Linked DNA regions of Homo sapiens: region 1 is linked to region 2. Evidence: fine-mapped expression QTL. A gene starts in region 2. The other region holds a variant in brackets. All regions are shown on one strand. Distances are between the middles of the regions.

Region 1 (5,372 bases), 69 kb before region 2:
TGCCCAGCATATAGCATGTGTTCATCATTGCTGATTCTGAAATACAGCAAACCATACCTCATTATTTTAAGAGCCTCATTCAGTTTTTACTCTCCTATTGTTTGCAGCAATCTTCCTACCCTGACAGCTGCAAACTTCAAAACAATGAAAGTCATTTGACTCTGTGTATGTGTCAAAGGTAAAGACCACACTTTGGGAGGCCGAGGCGGGCAGATCACTTGATGTCAGGAGTTCAAGACCAGCCTGGTCAACATGGTGAGACCCCATGTCTACTAAAGATACAAAAAATTAACTTGGCATCGTGGTGGGTGCCAGTAATCCCAGCTACTTAGGAGGCTGAGACAGGATAATCACTTGAACCTGGGTGACAGAGACTACAGTGAGCCCAGATCAAGCCAGTGCACTCCAGCCTGGGCAACAAAGTGAGACTCTGTCTCAAAAAAAACAAAAACAAAAAAAACCCAGAACTGTCTAGGGTGGGATACATGGCTGAGCATCCCACCGGCAGGGCCAGGAGAGGCACCTGGATCCTCTTTCCCGTTCTGTGGCCCGGGATTCCTTCTGCTGGAGGCGTTGTACTGTGTTGGCACTGTACGTTAGGCACACCATTTCCAGCCTGCCCACCGTCAGAGAGGCAGAGAATCTGAACCCATAGTGGCCATTTCTGGCTGTCCAGAAGGGCACTGGCCATCTGCCCTTCAGATTGTTTCCTTCCCTTCTCTACACAGTAGTTTCTTATAGAATGTTCTAGGCCCTTGCGCTCAGACTTCGTGTCCCTGCTCCCCCACCTGCACCAAACCTCCTTGGTCAGGCACCGGTTCCTCTCACTACCCCCTGTGGTTTAGCACTCACCTAGCATTCTGGAAGGAGCTTGTCCTGCACCCAGCACTGTGGAGACTGCAGAGGCTCAGAGTAGAGCCCTGGCTGCCTTGGTTTTGCCGAGTTCCACCCTGTGGTCATTCCAAGAGTTCAGATGCGCTGGGTGTGGTGGCTCATGCCCATAATCCCAGCACTTTGGGAGGTCGAGGTGGGTGGATCACGGGGTCAGGAGTTTGAGACCAGCCTGGCCAACATGGCAAAACCCATCTCTTCTTAAAAAAAAATTATATATATGTGTGTGTGTGTGTGTGTGTGTGTGTGTGTGTGTGCGCGTGTATGTGTATATATATATATATATATATACACATACACACAAAAAAAATTAGCCAGGCGCAGTGGCTCATGCCTGTAATCCCAGCACTTTGGGAGGTCGAGGTGGGCGGATCACGGGGTCAGGAGTTTGAAGCCAGCCTGCCCAACATGGCAAAACCCCATCTCTTCTAAAAAAAAAAATTATATGTGTGTGTGTGTGTGTGTGTGTGTGTGTGTGTACACACACACACAAAATTAGCCAGGCGCAGCGGTTCGTGCCTGTAATCCCAGGACTTTGGGAGACTGACGTGGGTGGATCACTTGAGGTCAGGAGTTTGAGACCAGCCTGGCCAACATGGTGAAACCCTGTCTCTACTAAAAAAAAAAAAAAAAAAAAAAAAAAAAAAAAAAAGGCTTGTGTGGTGACACGCGCCTGTAGTTCCAGCTACTCAGGAGTCTGAGGCAAGAGAATTGCTTGAACCTGGAAGGCAGAGGTTGCAATGAGCCAAGATCATCTACTGAACTCCAGCCTGGGTGACACGAGACTCTGTCTCAAAAAAAAAAAAAAAATTCAGATGCCATTGGAGTGACCCCATCCCTGGACCATTGTGATGGCCCTGGTTCTCTGGGAGCTCCGTGGAGTGACTCCCGCTCCTCTGTTGGGGCTGCAGTTCTCAGTGTCTCCCAAGCCCAGTGAGTCCCACAAGTGCTCCTATTTGAAGGTCTTAAGACAAACCCTCCTGGTTTCTCCCTGAGGTCTCCTCCCACGATTTCCTCACCATATTCCAGTGCCTCTGGCCTCTGGGACCCACGGTCTCAGGGTTTTGCATCAGACTGGGCAGCAAGCACCTCACTCATAGGGATGCTTCTCAGTCAAGGGCTTGCACTTTCCTCCTATCTCATCGGTGGAGCTAGAGAGGAGGAGATGTGCTGGTGCGGGGAAGCCACAGGCTCTGGTGCAGCCAAAAGACAAGAAGTGACCAAGACCACTTGAGCTGCCAGCTAAGGGAGGGGAGCAAGTCAAGGACCCCCTTAGTTTCCCTCCTGCCCACAGCAGGCTGCACACATGGCCATCCCCACCCTGTCCCGCATGGGTTCGCACAGGCATGGGCCCTGAGTCTCTTCCCCAGCAGGCAGGACCCCTGTCTCCCGGCACGGAGCTGTGGGTGCCCTGCCACCACCGTGGATTCTGTGGAGTAGAGAAAACCTGCCTGCAGAGGGAGAAGTCAGCAGATGTGCGGAGAGGCAGGGACAAAAGATAAGAGGGAGAGAGTGCAGGGCTTGGTTTTTAAAACCCTCCCAGCTCCCGGTTTGTGTGCCTGAAGCCATTCTGCATTTCTTGCCTTTGTATGCTCACAATAAAGTGCTTGTTTTTGGCACAAACGTTCCTCTTTGGGTTTGTTTCTCTTACTGGCAACCAAATTACTTGTACTCGATACCCTCCAAAGGAGGTACATGGCTGTGTAGACCCCACACAGCTCTGCAGGCAACTGTCCTCCTCCCACACCCTCTCCAGCCAACCCCTCCTTTACATCCACACATGCGTTCACACACCATGCCCCTCATGTCAGTTATCCAGTGCAGCATGACAGATGATCACATACTTAGCAGCTTACAACAACACATGTTCATTTTCTCACAGCTCCTGTGGGTCAGGAGTCCAGGCACAGCTTCTCTGGGTCCTCTGTCCAGGATCTTCATCTGCTGCAGTCAAGGCAGCAGCCAGGGCTGGGATCTCATCTGGAGGCTGGGCTGGGGAAGGATCCACTTCCCAGGAAGTAGGGATGATTGAGGGTCACCTTAGGGTCTATCCTTCACACACGAAACATCATCACAAATGAC[A/C]TGTGGGGAGGGGGATATTTGATACAAGGAAGAACCCCAACCTAAAAAAATCCTCAGGGTTCTGTTTTCACTCTTTCTACTTGTATTTGAATTTGGGGTTTTTGGTTGTCATTCTATTTGTTTAAGATGGAATCTTGCTCTGTCACCCAGGCTGGAGTGCAGTGACATGATCTCGGCTTACTGCTACCCCTGCCTCCCAGGTTCAAGCCATTCTCCTGCCTCAGCCTCCCAAGTAGCTGGGACTACAGGCACCCACCACCATGCCAGGCTAATTTTTTTATTTTTAGTAGAGATGAGGTTTTGATCTGTTGGCCAGGCTGGTCTTGAACTCCTGACCTCAGGTGATCCACTCACCTCAGCCCACTGAAGTGCTGGGATTACAGATGTGAGCCACTGCACCTGGCCTGAATTCAGTTTCTGTGCACATCTGTAAATTGTATTTGCACTGCACTGGTTTTTTAAATTGATAAAAGTTATGGTATACGACATGTTTTTGTATATGTATACATTGCAGAATGGTTAAATCTAGCTAATTAATATATCCATCACCTCCATTATCATTTATTTTTTGTGGCGAGAACATTTAAAATCTCTCAGCTGGCTGGGCACAGCAGCTCACACCTGTAATCTCAGCACTTTGAGAGGTTGAGGTGGGTGAATTGCTTGAAGCCGGCAGTTTGAGACCAGCCAGGGCAACATAGTAAGACCCCATCTACATAAAAAAATTAAAATTAGCCAGGTATGGTGGCCAAATGTCTGTAGTTCCAGCTACTCAAGAGGTTGAGGCAGGAGTTCGAGGGTCCAGTAAGTCATGATCATGCCAATGCACTCCAGCCTGGGTGACAAAGTGCAAGACCCTGTCTGTAAAAAAAAAAAAAAAAAAAAAAAAAAAAAAAAAGGCCAGATATGGGGGCTCACACCTGTAATCCCAGCACTTTGGGAGGCCAAGGCAGGTGGATCACATGAGCCCAGGAGTTGGAGACCAGCCTGGGCAATATGGCAAAATGCCTTCTCCACAAAATACAACAACAACCAACAAAAATTGCCAGGCATGGTGGTGCGTACTTGTAGTCCCAGCTACCCAGGAGGCTGAGGTGGGAGGATCACCTGAGCCTGGGAGTTTGAGAATGCATTGAGCCATGATCGCACCCTGTGTTCCAGCCTGGGCAACAGAGTGAGAGCCTGTCTCAAAAAAAAAAAAAAAAAAAAAAAAAAAAAGGAAGGCAAAGGATTGCAGAGTTCATCCTGAGTGGGAAGGTCTCTGAAGGATTCCAAGCAGAGGATTGGCTTGATCCGAGTTGCTCACCCTGCCAGTGGCTGGAGAATGGGAAGACTGGATGTGAGAAGGCAGTCAGGAGTCCGGGCAGAGATGGGGGTGGCCTGAGCTATCATAGTGACAGCTCAGTGCGTCCCTGCTGAAACACACTGTTGACCCCAGCCAGAGGCAACAGGGGTCTTGGTGTGAGGGGCAGGCTTGGACGGGGAGCTCAGGACTGTAGTGGAAGCCTCCCATGCCGCCCACTCCCCTTCTTTGGGCCTTGGAGGCAGAAGCTCAACCTCCCCGGTGAAGACTTCTCCTTGAGCCCACTTGCTCCAGAACCATTCCACGCTCCTGCCTGGAGCCATGTTAGCAGCCAGTTCCCCGCCCATACCCCTTCCCAGGAGGGCTGGGGGTGCCCTTTGTCCAACCTACTACTGCTATTTGGATTCCTGTAGAGAGCTGGGCCTATGAGCAGAGCTGAGGCTGGACCAATACATTATTTGCCTGTGCACCAGGCCAGTCCTAGCTGTTGGCATCAAGTAGGAACCAGAAAGACATCATCACTGGAGGATTAAGTGGGTGGGCAGCTCCTCAGCCCCAGGGGGTCCTGTTTACTTTCCTCTGGTCTGAAAATTGGGGTCCCTCGAGAGACTCCTCTGCTTTCCAGCTCTGTCAGGCCAGGAAGGGGTTCTAGTCCACCCCACCTTATCCCAGGCCTGGATGGTTCATGGCCCTGAGCTACTCCAGAGATGGTCTCAGGGCTCACTCCGTTGGCCCTGTCCTGCTCTTAGCTCTGCACGTGGCAAACGCAGCCCTGATGGGTCATTCCGTCAGACTCCAGTGGGCCCAAAGCTGGGAAGCTGAGGAGGCTGGCTCTACCCAGAACAGGAGGCCGCTGCTCTGCAGGTCAAAGCCTTACTGGCTTTTGGTGGGGAGGTTCATTGAGATGCACATCCACCTGGCTGCTTCTTTTTAGGGAAGCATCATCATGGGGAATTAAGCAAAGAAACACAGTCTAAGGCTGGGTGCGTGGCTCACACCTGTAATCCCAGCACTTTGGGAGGCCAAGGCAGGAGGATTGCTTGAGCCCAGGAGGTTAAAACCAGCTCAGGCAACATAGGAGAGACCCGCCCCCCAT
Region 2 (5,372 bases):
CCACTCTGCCACTCCTGCCAGAAACCTGAGTCATCTATAAGGCATTAGTCCATTTGTTCACTTATCAAGTGGTCTGTGAGCACCTCTATGTGCCAGGCACTACATCTAAGCACCAAGAGTGCCTGGTATGTAAATGTCTCATCGAAGAATTTATAGCATCTCTTTCTCACCTCCCAGAATCTATTCACTCCCAATTCCATTCTCTCTTACTTCCAAAACATAATAAATCCACACATTTTCCCTCATTTTTAGTGCTATCACCCTTGTCTGAGCCACCATCACTTCTGTCTAGGTTAGAGAAAGACCCTCCAGTCTTACCTCCCCGATATCCATTCTTCCTTCCTTTTTATTTTATTATTTTATTTTTGTTTTAATTTACTTAATTTTTAGAGACAGGGTCTTGTTCCCTTGACCAAGCCGCAGTGCAATGGTGCCATCAGAGCTCACTGTGGCCTCAAACTCTCGAACATCTGTGCTCAAGGGATCCTCCCACCTCCGTCTCCCAAGTAGGTGGGACCACAGGTACATGCCAACATGCCTAGCTAATTTTTTATTTTTTGAGACAGGGTTTCACTCTGTTGCCTGGGCTAAAGTGCAGTGACACAAACACAGCTCCTGCAGCCTCAACCCCATGGGCTCAAATGATCCCTGCACAGTGCTGGGATTACAGGTGTGAGCCACCATGCCTGGCCTCCAGCTAACTTCTTATTTTGTAATTTTTTTGTAGAGACGGGGTCTTGCTATGTTGCCCAGACGGGTCTCAAACTCCAGGCCTCAAGCAATCCTCCCAACTTGGCCTCCCAAAGCACTGAGGTTGCAGGCATGAGCCACCTCACCCAGCCTTGCTTCCTTTTAATCCGCCCCTCACACGGAAGCCAGAGAAATCTTTAAGTATGAGTCAGATCAGATCATTTTCCTGCTCAAAACATCTCCATGCTGCTGGGGTGCTTTGTTGTGCTTCCAACCCCACCACATACTAGCATTCATTTTATTCCTGGAACACGATTTCTGGCCTCAGGGTCTTTGCCATTCTGTTCCCTCTGCCTGGGATGCTCTTCCCTGCACTCTTTGCTGGACAAGCTCCTACTCATCCTTTAGATGTCAGCCTGCTGTATATCCCCAAAGGAGCCCCCTCTTGGCCTCAATATAAATTGGGTCCCCAAGCTTTTTGCTTTCATGGCAAACACAACTTCTCATCACAGTCTAATCAAGTGTAACACTTGATGTGTGTGATTACCCCTTGTCTGCACTGCACAGCAAGCCCCATAAAGAAAGGTCCATGTCTCTGTCACTCTCATTGTGTCCCCAAAACAGGCATGCAATAAATGTTGGTACAACAAATAAATGTGGGATTTTTAGAGCCTTTGCTATAGATCCTTTGCACGCTGTGACCGCCCAAAAAAGGGACAGCATTTTTCCAAGTCCTATCTGCAGGATGCCCAATGGGCTAGGACACTTCTGTCAACTATTGCCCAGAATAATTCAGCAGAACACCATTTGAAAACCACTGATTGGTAGGGTGCAGTGGCTCATGCCTGTAATCCCAGCACTTTGCAAGGCTGAGGCGGGAGAATCGCTTGAGTTCAGGAGATTGAGACCAGCCAAGGCAACACAGGGAGACCCCATTTGTACAAAAAATAAAAATAAAAAAGTTAGCAGGGCATGCTGGTGAGCTATGATAGTACTACATTTCAGCCTGGGCAACACAGAGAGACCCTGTGAAAGAAAAGACAGAAAAGAAACGAGAGAGAGAGAGAACAGAAAACACACACAGAGAGAGAGAGGAGGCAAAGAAGGAAAGAAGGAAGGAGAAAGGGAAAGAAAGGAAGAAATAAATAATAAAAGAGAGAGAAGAAAGAAAGAAAGAAAGAAAAAAGGGAAAAGAAAGAGAAACAGAGAGGTGGGAGGGAGGGAAGGAAGGAAAGAAGGAAGGAGAAAGAAAGGGAAAGAAAGGAATAAGGAAAGAAATAAAAGAAAGAAGGAAAGAAAGAAAGAACAAAGAAAAGAAAGGAAAAGAAAGAAAAAGAAAGAAAGAGAAAAAGAAAGAAAGGAAAGAAAAAGAAAATCACTGATATTGTGGCTGAGCTCATGGCCACAGGAATTGAGTCTTGGCTTGGCCACTCACTATCTGTATTACCTTGAGCAAGTTATTTAATGACCCTTAGACTCTGTCCATGAATTAGGGGGTGCTGTACCTACCTTACAGGGTTTCTGTGTCAGTTAGATGAGATCCAGGCGTAAAGTTCTCTGCACGTGTCTGACACGTACCAGTGAAGACTTGTATTTGCCTTGTAGTTAACAGCAGCTGCAGTTGTAGTAAATACATTCCTATAGCTTTTTAATGCTTATGTGGATACATTTACCTTCGTTATCTCTGGGTAACACACCTGTGGGGTGGGTCAGCCTGAGGTTCATATTCCCATTTGACAGATAAGGAACCTGAGACTCGGTGAGGCAAAATGTTTGGCTCAATGTCCCTGACCTTGGTTAAGTGGAAGAGCTGGGACCCACGTACGGTGCTGCTGGCTGCCGGCTGCTGGCTTCATACCACCATGCCCACCCCACAAACACACTCCATTGTCCTGGTGTATGACAAGCTTTCTCTGCAGAGAGGGCTGAGCTTCCCCTGCCCCACAGGTGACAGCTGGAGTCCTTCTGCCAGCACCTGTCCCCAGACCAACTTCCCAGTTTGGAGAGTGGCTACCTGTTTGGGGGCAGGGGGTGTCTTACCTTATTCCAGATGCAGGGCTCACCTGCCCTGGGGGCTGTCAGTGGCTTCTAAGGCACTAGGAGGTGGCGGTGGTTGTAAGGAGGGAGATACCCGGGATCCTCTCTCTTTGCAGCCAAGAGCTTCCGGAGACAGCAGTGACCCTTCCTCCTATATGCCCGCTGCTGAGAGAGCCTCCAAGCGGGTCAAACTCCAAACTCCAGCCTCAGCTGCAGCGGGGATTAAAGGAAGCGTGAATGATCTCCCCAGGGCAGAAGAGAGAACGGGGCCCAGCCCAGGACCCTTGAACTCTGAGCAGGTGGGGAAGGTGACATGTCCCACGCTCTGCCCACACCGTCCTCCACCAGGGTCCTCACCTGCGTGGGGACCCATGGCATGGAGGGGTTGGGGAGACGCTGGAGCCCAAGGCACCATCCTGCTTCACTCACCCAGTCTTCCACTGTCCCGCCTCCACGCTGGGGACAGGCAGGCTTGGGACGAGCTGGAGGAAGGGGAGGGGAGGAAAAATGCTGGCGGCGGATGGAGGGGACAGAGGCAAAGTGCCAGGAGGGACGTCCAGCCACAGCCCTCACCGCAGTGGCAGCAACAGGAACAGCAACCATTGCTTGTGCAACCCCTTTCCATATACTCTTCAGACAGAGGCATGGCAAAGAACAGGTGTCTGCCTGAAGTCGAGAGTTCGAGACCAGCCTGACCAACATGGAGAAACCCCATCTCTACTAAAAATACAAAGTTAGCCGGGTATGGTGGTGCATGCCTGTGGTCCCAGCTACTCGGGAGGCTGAGGCAGGAGAATCACTTGAATCCGGGAGGCGGAGGTTGTGGTGAGCCGAGATTACACCATTGCACTCCAGCCTGGGCAACAAGAGCGAAAATCAGTCTCAAAAAAAGAAGAAGAAGAAGAAGAAGAGGTGTCTGAGGCCCTGAAAAACCGTCAGGAGTGACCGAGCCATGGCCAGGCGCCCACATCGGGCCCAGGACATCAGCGGGGCATAGCGAAGATTTCTGCCAGATGCTCAAAGCATCCAAAACTTTATTTACTTTTTATTTCTGAGACAGGATCTCACTCTGTCACCCAGGCTGGAGTGCAGTGGTGGCATCACAGCTTGCTGCAGGCTCATCCTCCTGGGCTCAAGTGATCCTCCCACCACAGCCTCCCGAGTAGCTGGGACTACAGGCGTGCACCACCACACCCAGCTAATTTTTTCATTTTTTTGGTAGAGAGAGAATCTTGCTATGTTGCCCAGGCTGGTCTCCAACTCCTGGGTTTAAGTGATCCTCCCACCTTGGCCTCCCAAAGTGCTGGGATTACAGGGGTCAAACACTGTGCCAGGCCAAATACCAAAACATTTTAAAAATAGTTACTAGTATTTGCAAACCAAGAGGCTTGAAACATAATTCTAGAATACTCACTTTTCTAGAACAACCTGAAGATCTGGCCTCACCAGGCCCCCATGGCCACAGGACAGCTGCTGACTGGGGAGGAGTCGTGGCCTCCCCATCTCACTCCTTCACTGGGCCTGCCAGGCTCTGGGGGGCCCTCAGCTGAGGCCCCTGTCCTGGCACCGAGTAGCCAGAAATAATAGCAGTGATGAACACGTGCCAGGCTCTAAGGGCACAACATGCCTTTACTCACTTGGTCTTTCCAACAACCCTCGAAGTTAGGTCCTGTTATCTCTATCTTACTGACGAGGTAACAGAGGTAGAGGAGATGAGTCATCGGCCCAGGATCACCCGGGTTGTAAGTGACACAGCAAGATTTCAGCCCAGGCCACCTGGCTCTAGAGTCCTGCAGGAGCAGTGGAGGGTGGCTTGACTGGATAAAGGGTGGCCTGGGTGAGCAAACACTGGGTGACTGACCAACACCAGTATGAATGGGGCCTTTGGGGGAGGGACCTGCCCTGGGGGACAGATTTACAGAAGGAACAGCTGGGATTGGAGAAGAGGGACAGACAGAAGGCCATGAATCTGTGATCTGCAGCAGAGGCCACAGCACCAGGAAAGGCAGTGGGGTGCCACCGAGGGTGCACTGCTTCGCCAACCTGGGGTCCAGTCCTGACTTCTTGGGAATGTCTGGGGAGCCTTAGCCATGTGCAGGGTGTCTACAGAAGAGGCGTGGTAGTGAGTGAAGCCGGGCAGGTGGAGCTGAGGCTGACCCGAGAGCATGTGTCCCAGCTGAAGAGGACAGCCACGACCCAGCTCCACGTGGGGGAAGACAGGCCCAATGGGGTCAGAACTTCTGATTGTTCTAGAGAAGTTCTGCAAAGTTTCATGATTACGCATCCTTGAGGGCCAGATGTGGCCTGCTCGACCCTTGGCTTGTCACCTCCGATTGTTTCTCTGTCAGGTTTTTCATTTTTACCCTCAGTGCTATAAAGAATAGGAGAGGTGGAGTGCAGGGGCTCATGCTATCATCTCAGAGCTTTGGGAAGCTGAGGCAGGAGGATCTCTTGAGGCCAGGAGTTAGAGGCCAGTCTGGGTAACTCAGTGAGACCCTCATCTCTACACAAAATAGGAAGAATTAGATGGACATAGCAGTGTGCACCTGTAGTCCCAGCTACTCAGGAGACTGAGGTGGGAGAATCGTTTGAGCCCAGGAGTTCAAGGCTGCAGTGAGCCATGATAGTGCCACTACACTCGAGGC

The links. PIP is the estimated chance that this variant, and not a neighbour inherited with it, causes the effect. A credible set is the group of variants that fine-mapping cannot tell apart.
Region 1: its variant is the best candidate, but not a certain one, in a credible set for the expression of SLC5A11 in whole blood (TOPMed, PIP 0.58).

The regions. Positions count from the first base shown.
Region 1 is chr16:24,912,595-24,917,966 of GRCh38, reverse strand. No RefSeq gene overlaps it. Among named protein-coding and RNA genes, the nearest start is that of SLC5A11, 69 kb to the right of the region's middle. The variant A/C (reference allele first, on the strand shown) is at 2,974.
Region 2 is chr16:24,843,797-24,849,168 of GRCh38, reverse strand. SLC5A11 (solute carrier family 5 member 11) reads right to left here and starts at 3,206. Exons shown (of 17, transcript NM_001352248.3): 1 at 3,157-3,206; 2 at 2,731-2,937.